2 linked regions of the Homo sapiens genome follow. The protein of the gene in region 2 interacts with the protein of the main gene of each other region in a pairwise test. Each region holds a gene or a part of one and is shown on either strand. Other genes may lie near its edges.

Evidence for each region.
Region 1: the proteins of SS18L1 (region 2) and AATF interact in a two-hybrid assay, tested with the Homo sapiens proteins (one large-scale study listed by BioGRID and IntAct).

What each region holds. Positions count from the first base shown.
Region 1 is NC_000017.11:36,986,954-36,990,453, reverse strand, and holds part of AATF (protein AATF), read right to left. Parts: intron 1,936-3,500; coding exon 1,734-1,935; intron 1,208-1,733; coding exon 1,043-1,207; intron 1-1,042. UniProt on the Homo sapiens protein: Part of the small subunit (SSU) processome, first precursor of the small eukaryotic ribosomal subunit.
Region 2 is NC_000020.11:62,160,769-62,164,268, reverse strand, and holds part of SS18L1 (calcium-responsive transactivator), read right to left. Parts: exon of another isoform or gene 2,834-3,500; coding exon 2,689-2,833; intron 1,518-2,688; coding exon 1,338-1,517; intron 812-1,337; coding exon 647-811; intron 125-646; coding exon 23-124; intron 1-22. UniProt on the Homo sapiens protein: Transcriptional activator which is required for calcium-dependent dendritic growth and branching in cortical neurons. Recruits CREB-binding protein (CREBBP) to nuclear bodies.

The DNA.
Region 1 (3,500 bases), on a different chromosome or scaffold from region 2:
CATCTATCAGAATTTGGTGTATTTTCTTTAACACTTCCACTTCAAGAAATCTACCCATATATTTATACGAACACATAATACATGTACAGGAATCTTTCCTGTAGCAGTGTTTCTGAAACTGGAGACAACATAATATCCATTGTTTGCATAAATGATAGTGCATATCCATACAATGGAATACTTTGAGGTCATTAGGAAAAATGAGGTAGCTCTCTAGGTAATGAAATGGAAAGAGTATCTAGGACTTATTAGATTTTAAAAGTTGCAAGACTTTAAATACAGTTGTAATATTTTACATATTTATACTACATAAATGTCTCTCATTTAGTAAAAAAGGCAACCATATTTATACATATATATTTGTTATTTGCACACATATATAGTTACACAAATAGAAAAGACCCAAAAACTTGTTACAACTATTAATTATTAACTGTAAACTTGTTACAACTATTAAATACTGAAAATTTCACCTCAGGAGTTACGTTAACAGGCAATTGACAAAAAAAATAAAAAAATTTCACCTCAGGAGTGAAATTTTCAGAGTAGAGAATTTTGCTTTTCATTTTAAGTTGCTATAAACTAAAAAAGGATTAAGTATATATTTCTTCCATAATTAAAAAATTTTAAATGTTTCCTTTAAACAAAAGAATTTGACTATTCCACTTCTGCACCCTTTCTAAAGTACCTAAATGGCAAACGTTGAGCCTAAAGTACACACTTGTTTCAATACTGACATTTCTACAGAAGTAGCTTTAAAACTGAATTTTGAAAATTGGATTATGAATGCTTCTACTACCAGACTCCTGCATCAAACTCAAAATTAAGAGAAGATGACACACAGGAGTTAATAGAAGCCCCATTTTTAAAAACTCTCTCCTCTCACATACACTCAAGTTTCTCTCAGTAATCCAGTAAAGTAGTGTTGCTTTCCTTTCTCTCACTAACCTCTTATATAAACAGGTAATAGCTACAAGTTTTTCAGCTAATAAGCCTCATAGAAACTATTCCCCATAATCACTCTGCATTACAGAGTTCTTACCGGTTCCCCTGGCAAACTCTCTGGGACAGGCTGAGCTGCTGGCTCAGGTTTGCCAAGAACTCGATAGACAGAGCGCTTGGTCTGTGTCCTTCGAAGTAATCTCTCTTTGTCCATCAGAATATGGTCGATCTGAGTCAAGATTGAGCGTTCAAAGGCACCAAAACCCTGCAACAACATTAAGCAGTGTCAGATAATGCAGAAAATCAGTGCTGAAGGCAAGCTACATTGGTTTCTCTATCTTTCTGTGTCAGCAGAGAGATAGAAAATCATCTTTTCAGGAGGGACTTTCTGTAAAGGACTGAGTTTGTGAGTGGCTATAATTGTTCTTAAAAAAAAAAAGTTAGTCTTAAGCAGGTCATATCATTTTTCTACACACGGAGATTAGCTTCTGATACTTTAATAATTATTGCTTTGAAATCCACTCCTTTAAAGTATTTGGATTTTCAGCACTTGAACACTTACAAGGCCTCAATTTTAAGAATAAAACATTCTTTCTAATAAAGTTAAAATCCCAAGTCTGAATCGTATAAACCCCAGTGCCAGAAGTTCAGTAGATTTTGCTATAGAAATGAATGATTACCATTACATCGTGACAACATCCATATAAATGAGCTGTAGTTCCAATTTCTTAAAACTTCTTCAAGTTGCCACAACCTATCTTACACATACATGCGCGCATACACACACTTGCCTTCCCCAGTTTTCCAGAAGCCAGTTTGGTCTTATCGTGCCATTTCTGAAGTGTGCGGTTCCTGTAGACTGTAAAGTCGGCAAAGCGCTTTGCCATGAAGCTGGGATAGTCCTCCATCTCCAGCTTCCTCTTTGCAGGGACCCTTCTTCGTTGCTGCTTCTTCTCTTCTACCAGCTCATCATCTTCACTAGAAATCTCCTCACTAGAAAAGCAGTAAGAATATTATGTCCAGTGTAAACAAACATTACTTAGATTTTAAAAACTAGGCTCACATAAAGGACTGAGAATATTTAGGCCTTACCTGTTCTGTCTCCATTCAAAATAACACCAAAGATATAAGGATGGCTTTTGCTCTTTGAGAAGAATATTCATGAGATCAATCAAAAACTCGTGTAACTTTTTTTTTTGAGACAGTCTTGCTCTGTTGCCCAGGCTGGAGTGCAGTGGCGCGATCTTGGCTCACTGCAACCTCCACTTCTGGGTTCAAGCAATTCTCATGCCTCAGCCTCATGGGTAGCTGGGATTACAGGTGTGTGCAACCATGCCCGACTAATTTTTTTCATATTTTTAGTAAAGATGGTGTTTCACTATGTTGGCCAAGCTGGTTTCAAACTCCTGGCCTCCAGTGATCCACCTGCCTCGGCCTCCCAAAGTGCTGGGATTACAGGGCATGAGCCACCACACCCAGCCTCATGTAACTTTTAAAACAAATATAAAAAGAACTAGTTTCAAAATATTTTTTAAAAGGTAAGTAAACCATAAAAATAAATGAGGTTTTAAAAGAATTATTAGAAATGTGTATGAACCAGGCCTGCAGTATTATAGGACAGTATTTAAAAATTAAACACATAACCATATTTCTACGACCTTAATCCTCAAATCAATAAGGGAAATGTGTCTCTCTGTAACCAACTGTTAAGGAAAGATGAATAATATTAGTTGAACCAAATACAAGAGAAGCTGAATGTGAAGAAAACTCAAAGCGGTAGGCAACAATTAGCACTAACTAACCTGCAGTGCCATCTATGCAACTGCCATGGCAATGTAATACAACCTCCAACTATCTGCCAGTTGCACTCACTGGATTACTGACCTCAACATATAATAGGTGCTCAATAAATGTGAGTTTCCTTTTTGTCCTCCCAACTAGTTCAGTAGATAAAAAGTGAAACAAAAGATAAGCTCGAGGGAAAAAAAGCAAGCAGGTATATACAGCAGGTGTAAACAAAAGGGGGAAAAATCTTCATCAAATGTAATAATTTCAGGGGGAAAAAATAATTATTTTGCTGTTTTCTGAAATTTTTCCATCTTTCATAATAACAGCTTTTATTCAAAGGAGATGGCTGTGACCAGTGATTCCAATATATGGTATGGGCACAGAATGTTTCATAAACATTAATTAAGCATTAATATTTTAAAAATGTGCTTTTGGCCAGGTGAAGTGGCCCATGCTTATAATTCCAGCACTTTGGGAGGCTGAGGTGGAAGGATGGCTCGAGCCCAGGAGTTTGAGACCAGATAGGGAAACACAGCAAGACCCTGTCTCTACAAAAAAAAAAAAAAAAAATAGCCAGGCATGGTGGCAAGTGCCTGCAGTCCCAGCTATTTGGGAGGCTGAAGCAGGAGGACCGCTTAAGCCCAGGAGTTTGAGGCTGCAGTGAGCTGCGATCACATCACTGCACTCCAGCCTGGATGACAGTGTAAGACCCCATCTCTAAAAAACAAAGTGCTTTTATCTTCTAATTCCAATAGATCTAAAGAGAAGGC
Region 2 (3,500 bases):
TCAGGCCGCCGCCAGTGCTCACCGTCGGGGTAGTACTGCTGGCCCATGGGCTCCGCGGCGCCCTGGCTGTGGCTGTACTGCTCGCCATAGTACTCCTCCTGGCCCAGGTACTGCTGGGAAGAGCCTGCGGGGGAACCACATTCAGCGCCAGTGCGGGCCGCGCCCTCCTCCCTCAGAGGACCTGCTCGCTCACTGGGGAAGCCAAGGCCTTGCTGAATGGCCTCACCCACCCGAGGAGAACACCCCACGCTGTCATCGTATCCAACTTATGTTTTGTATTTTTAGTACAGAGTTTCACCATGTTGGCCAGGCTGGTCTTGAGCACCTGGCCTCAGGTGATCCGCCCACCTCGGCCTCCCAAAGTGCTCGGACTACAGGCATGAGCCCGGCCTGTGACACTCTTAATGACAACTGCCGCCCCTGCCCCCAACACTGACTCCTCGGGGACAGCAGACCCTCCACGGGCCACACCCTGGCCCTCACCCCCAGGGTCCACACTCAATGTTAACACCAAGGCGCCAAGCCTCACTCCCCCAGGCTCCCCGCCTCACTCCCCCAGGCTCCCCGAAGAGAAGCACACACAGCCTGGCACTTCACGACCCGCGGCGGTCAGCTGTGCCCGCGACCTGGCCCGGCCGGGCGTTACCTTGCTGGGAGGGCCGGTAGGGCGCCATGGGCCGCTGCCCCATCATGCTGCTCCCCTGGCTGCCCTGCCCCATCATGGCGATGGACGACTGGCCCTGGTAGTGCTGGCTGCCGCCCTGCGCCGAGCTGTAGTGCGACGTGGCCGCCTGCTGCTGCATCATGGAGACTGAACGACAGGACAGAGGCCCCACATCACCCCGGGAAGCCTCCCGCCCTCCCTCCCACACCCAACTACCTCCTGCGCCCGGGCGGGTTCCTCGTTATTTTCCTGTGCTCCCCACGAGGACAGCGTCCTCCACCGCAAGGCACGCCTCCCCTACGTGGCCTGCACTGACGCCCTGCAAGCTCAGACCCGCTGCTTGCACCGACTCTACCCCACCTCTGAGAGCCCAGTGCTGTCTGTCCAGACCCAGGGCCAGTGGCCCCCACTCCCTGGGGCATTCCCTGAGACTCCATGGGAAACACCCCAGCCCCTCGCAAAGCTGGGGGACAGGAGGAGTTGATCGTGCACCCACTGGCGCCCATCCCTCCGGAAGCTCTCAGAGGCAGCGGCCAGCCCCGATTCACGGGCCCCTCCCCTCCAGCACCCAGCAGGAGGGCAGCTTCCCCGGGACCACATGTCCAACGTGCATGTGTCAAGGGTCTTGGAGGCAGGCCCAGGCCCCCCGGGGTTGCAGAGGCAGAGTAGGTACCTGGGTTGGACTGCATGTTGATGTTGGTCCGAGACACGTAGTTGCCGATGGTGCCTTGCCCCTGCATGGGGACGCCCTGCGAGGCGGGTCCCGCGTGGCTGTAGCCGGGCCCAGAGATGCTCATGGAGGTGGTGGGCAGCGTGTTAGGCGCCGTCTGCTGCATGGACACGTGGCTCGGCCCTGGCATGGGGAGCAGGGAGTGGTGTCAGGCACTGGGGAGCCAGGTCACCACTTCTGAAGGTGAAGACACCCCAATTTCCCTTCAAGTGACTTTGGGAAGAGTTGCTATCAACAGCACTATTAATGATTAAGTGACTAATAAATAAGTGGCCGGGAGCAGTGGCTCATGCCTGTAATCCCAGCACTTTGGGAGGCCGAGGTGGGTGGATCACCTGAAGTCAAGAGTTCGAAACCAGCCTGGACAACATGGTGAAACCCCGTCTCTACTAAAAATACAAAAAAATTAGCCAGGTGTGGTGGCACGTGCCTATAATCCCAGCTACTTGGGAGGCTGAGGCCGGAGAACTGCTTTAACCCGGGAGGCGGAGGTTGCAGTGGGCCAAGATCATGCCCATTGCACTCCAGCCTGGCCGACTAGAGCGAGACTCTGTCTCAAAAAAAAAAGAAAAGAAAACAAAGCAGCGTACATGCTAGCAAAGCACAGGATGAATCGTTTATTTGTTGTTATTTTGTTATTATTTTCTGAGACAGGGTCTGGCTCTGTCACCCAGGCTGCAGGGCAGTGGCATGAACAAGGCTCACTTCAGCCTCACCCTCCCAAGCTCAAGTGACCCTCTCTCCTCAGTCTCCCGAGTATTTAACAGTTTGGACTACAAGTGTGCACCATCACACCCGGCTAATATTTTTATTTTTTGTAAAGATGGGGCTTTGCCATATTGCCCAGGCTGGTCTCAAACTCCTGGCCTCAAGTAGTCTGCTGGTTTAGGCCTCACAAAGGGTTGGGATTAGAGATCTGAGCCACCACACCCGGCCTGTTATATTACTGTTAATGGTCTCCAAACGTTATCCATGCTTCTCAATCCAAAGACAGGAGCATTCCATTCCTATTACACAATCCACCTGGAACCCCGCAACTTGCATTTGAATTTGATGGAACGTGACAGTGTCAGAGAGAGTGGACAACTGGAGCAGGGGCTCAGCCCAGCCGCACGGCACGCTCGCTGCGGCCCTGAGCCTGGGCGATGGCAGCCGACCTGTGGCTACCCCAGGAGGAGTGGGTCCCATGCCCAGCCCTGTGAGGGGTGGGGTGCCCCACCATGGCAGCCGGCTGCCCAAGGGCTGCCTTGGTGGCCTCGTAGCCAGGAACGTCCTCCTCCCCCGCCGCACTCACCGTTGCCAATCTGGCCCTGCAGGAGGGAGGAGGGTGGCAGGCCCGTGCTGATGGCGTCACTCAGGCTGCCCTGAGAGTGCAGGCCCTGGCTGGAGCCGCTCTGAGTCAGGGCTCCAGGGCCCAGGTTCATGTTCTGCGTGGGCGGCTGCAGGCAACAGGAAGTTTTCAGGGAAAAACGGTTAATTTACGGAGAGCGACCTCCACAAGCCAGGCCAGGGATGAGAGGGCACCCGAGATTTGCCGCCACACATCATGGCCACCTGGTCAATGTTCGTAATCAGCAGCCATCGTCACAGCCAGGTGACCGCAGAGCACCAGGCCCAGATGGAGATGGCAGAGTGAGCATCTGGGTGAGCGTTCACAACCCTACTGAGTATCAAGTTCATCCACACGTGCCTGGGTGTGAAAAGCTGGACCTCCTCCTGGGACAGCAGGGAACCCCTTTCCCGGCCCACCAGGCTGAACGCACCCCGTCCCCCTCGGGCGCAGGTGACCAGCGCCTCTGTGCTCCCCAACCACGACCCCTCCGTGCCAAGAGCTTCGGCAGAGGTGGGATCCCTCTCCTGTTTCCCGTGCTCCTGCTGCATGTGCCCCTTCCCCGACTACCCCCACCCCACACCCGCCTCGGATCACACCGCACAGAAGGGAGTGAGTGTGAAGTGGCCCTCAGCACTCTCCCAGATCAAGGTCAACCAGCAGCTCTGGAGGTCTGCACACACATGCTGTCTACACCTGGCCAAGAAAAGGAAATTTCCACCAGGACCTGTGGGTGTCTGCAGGGTGAAGAAGTGCAATTTGACAGGTCAATGGAG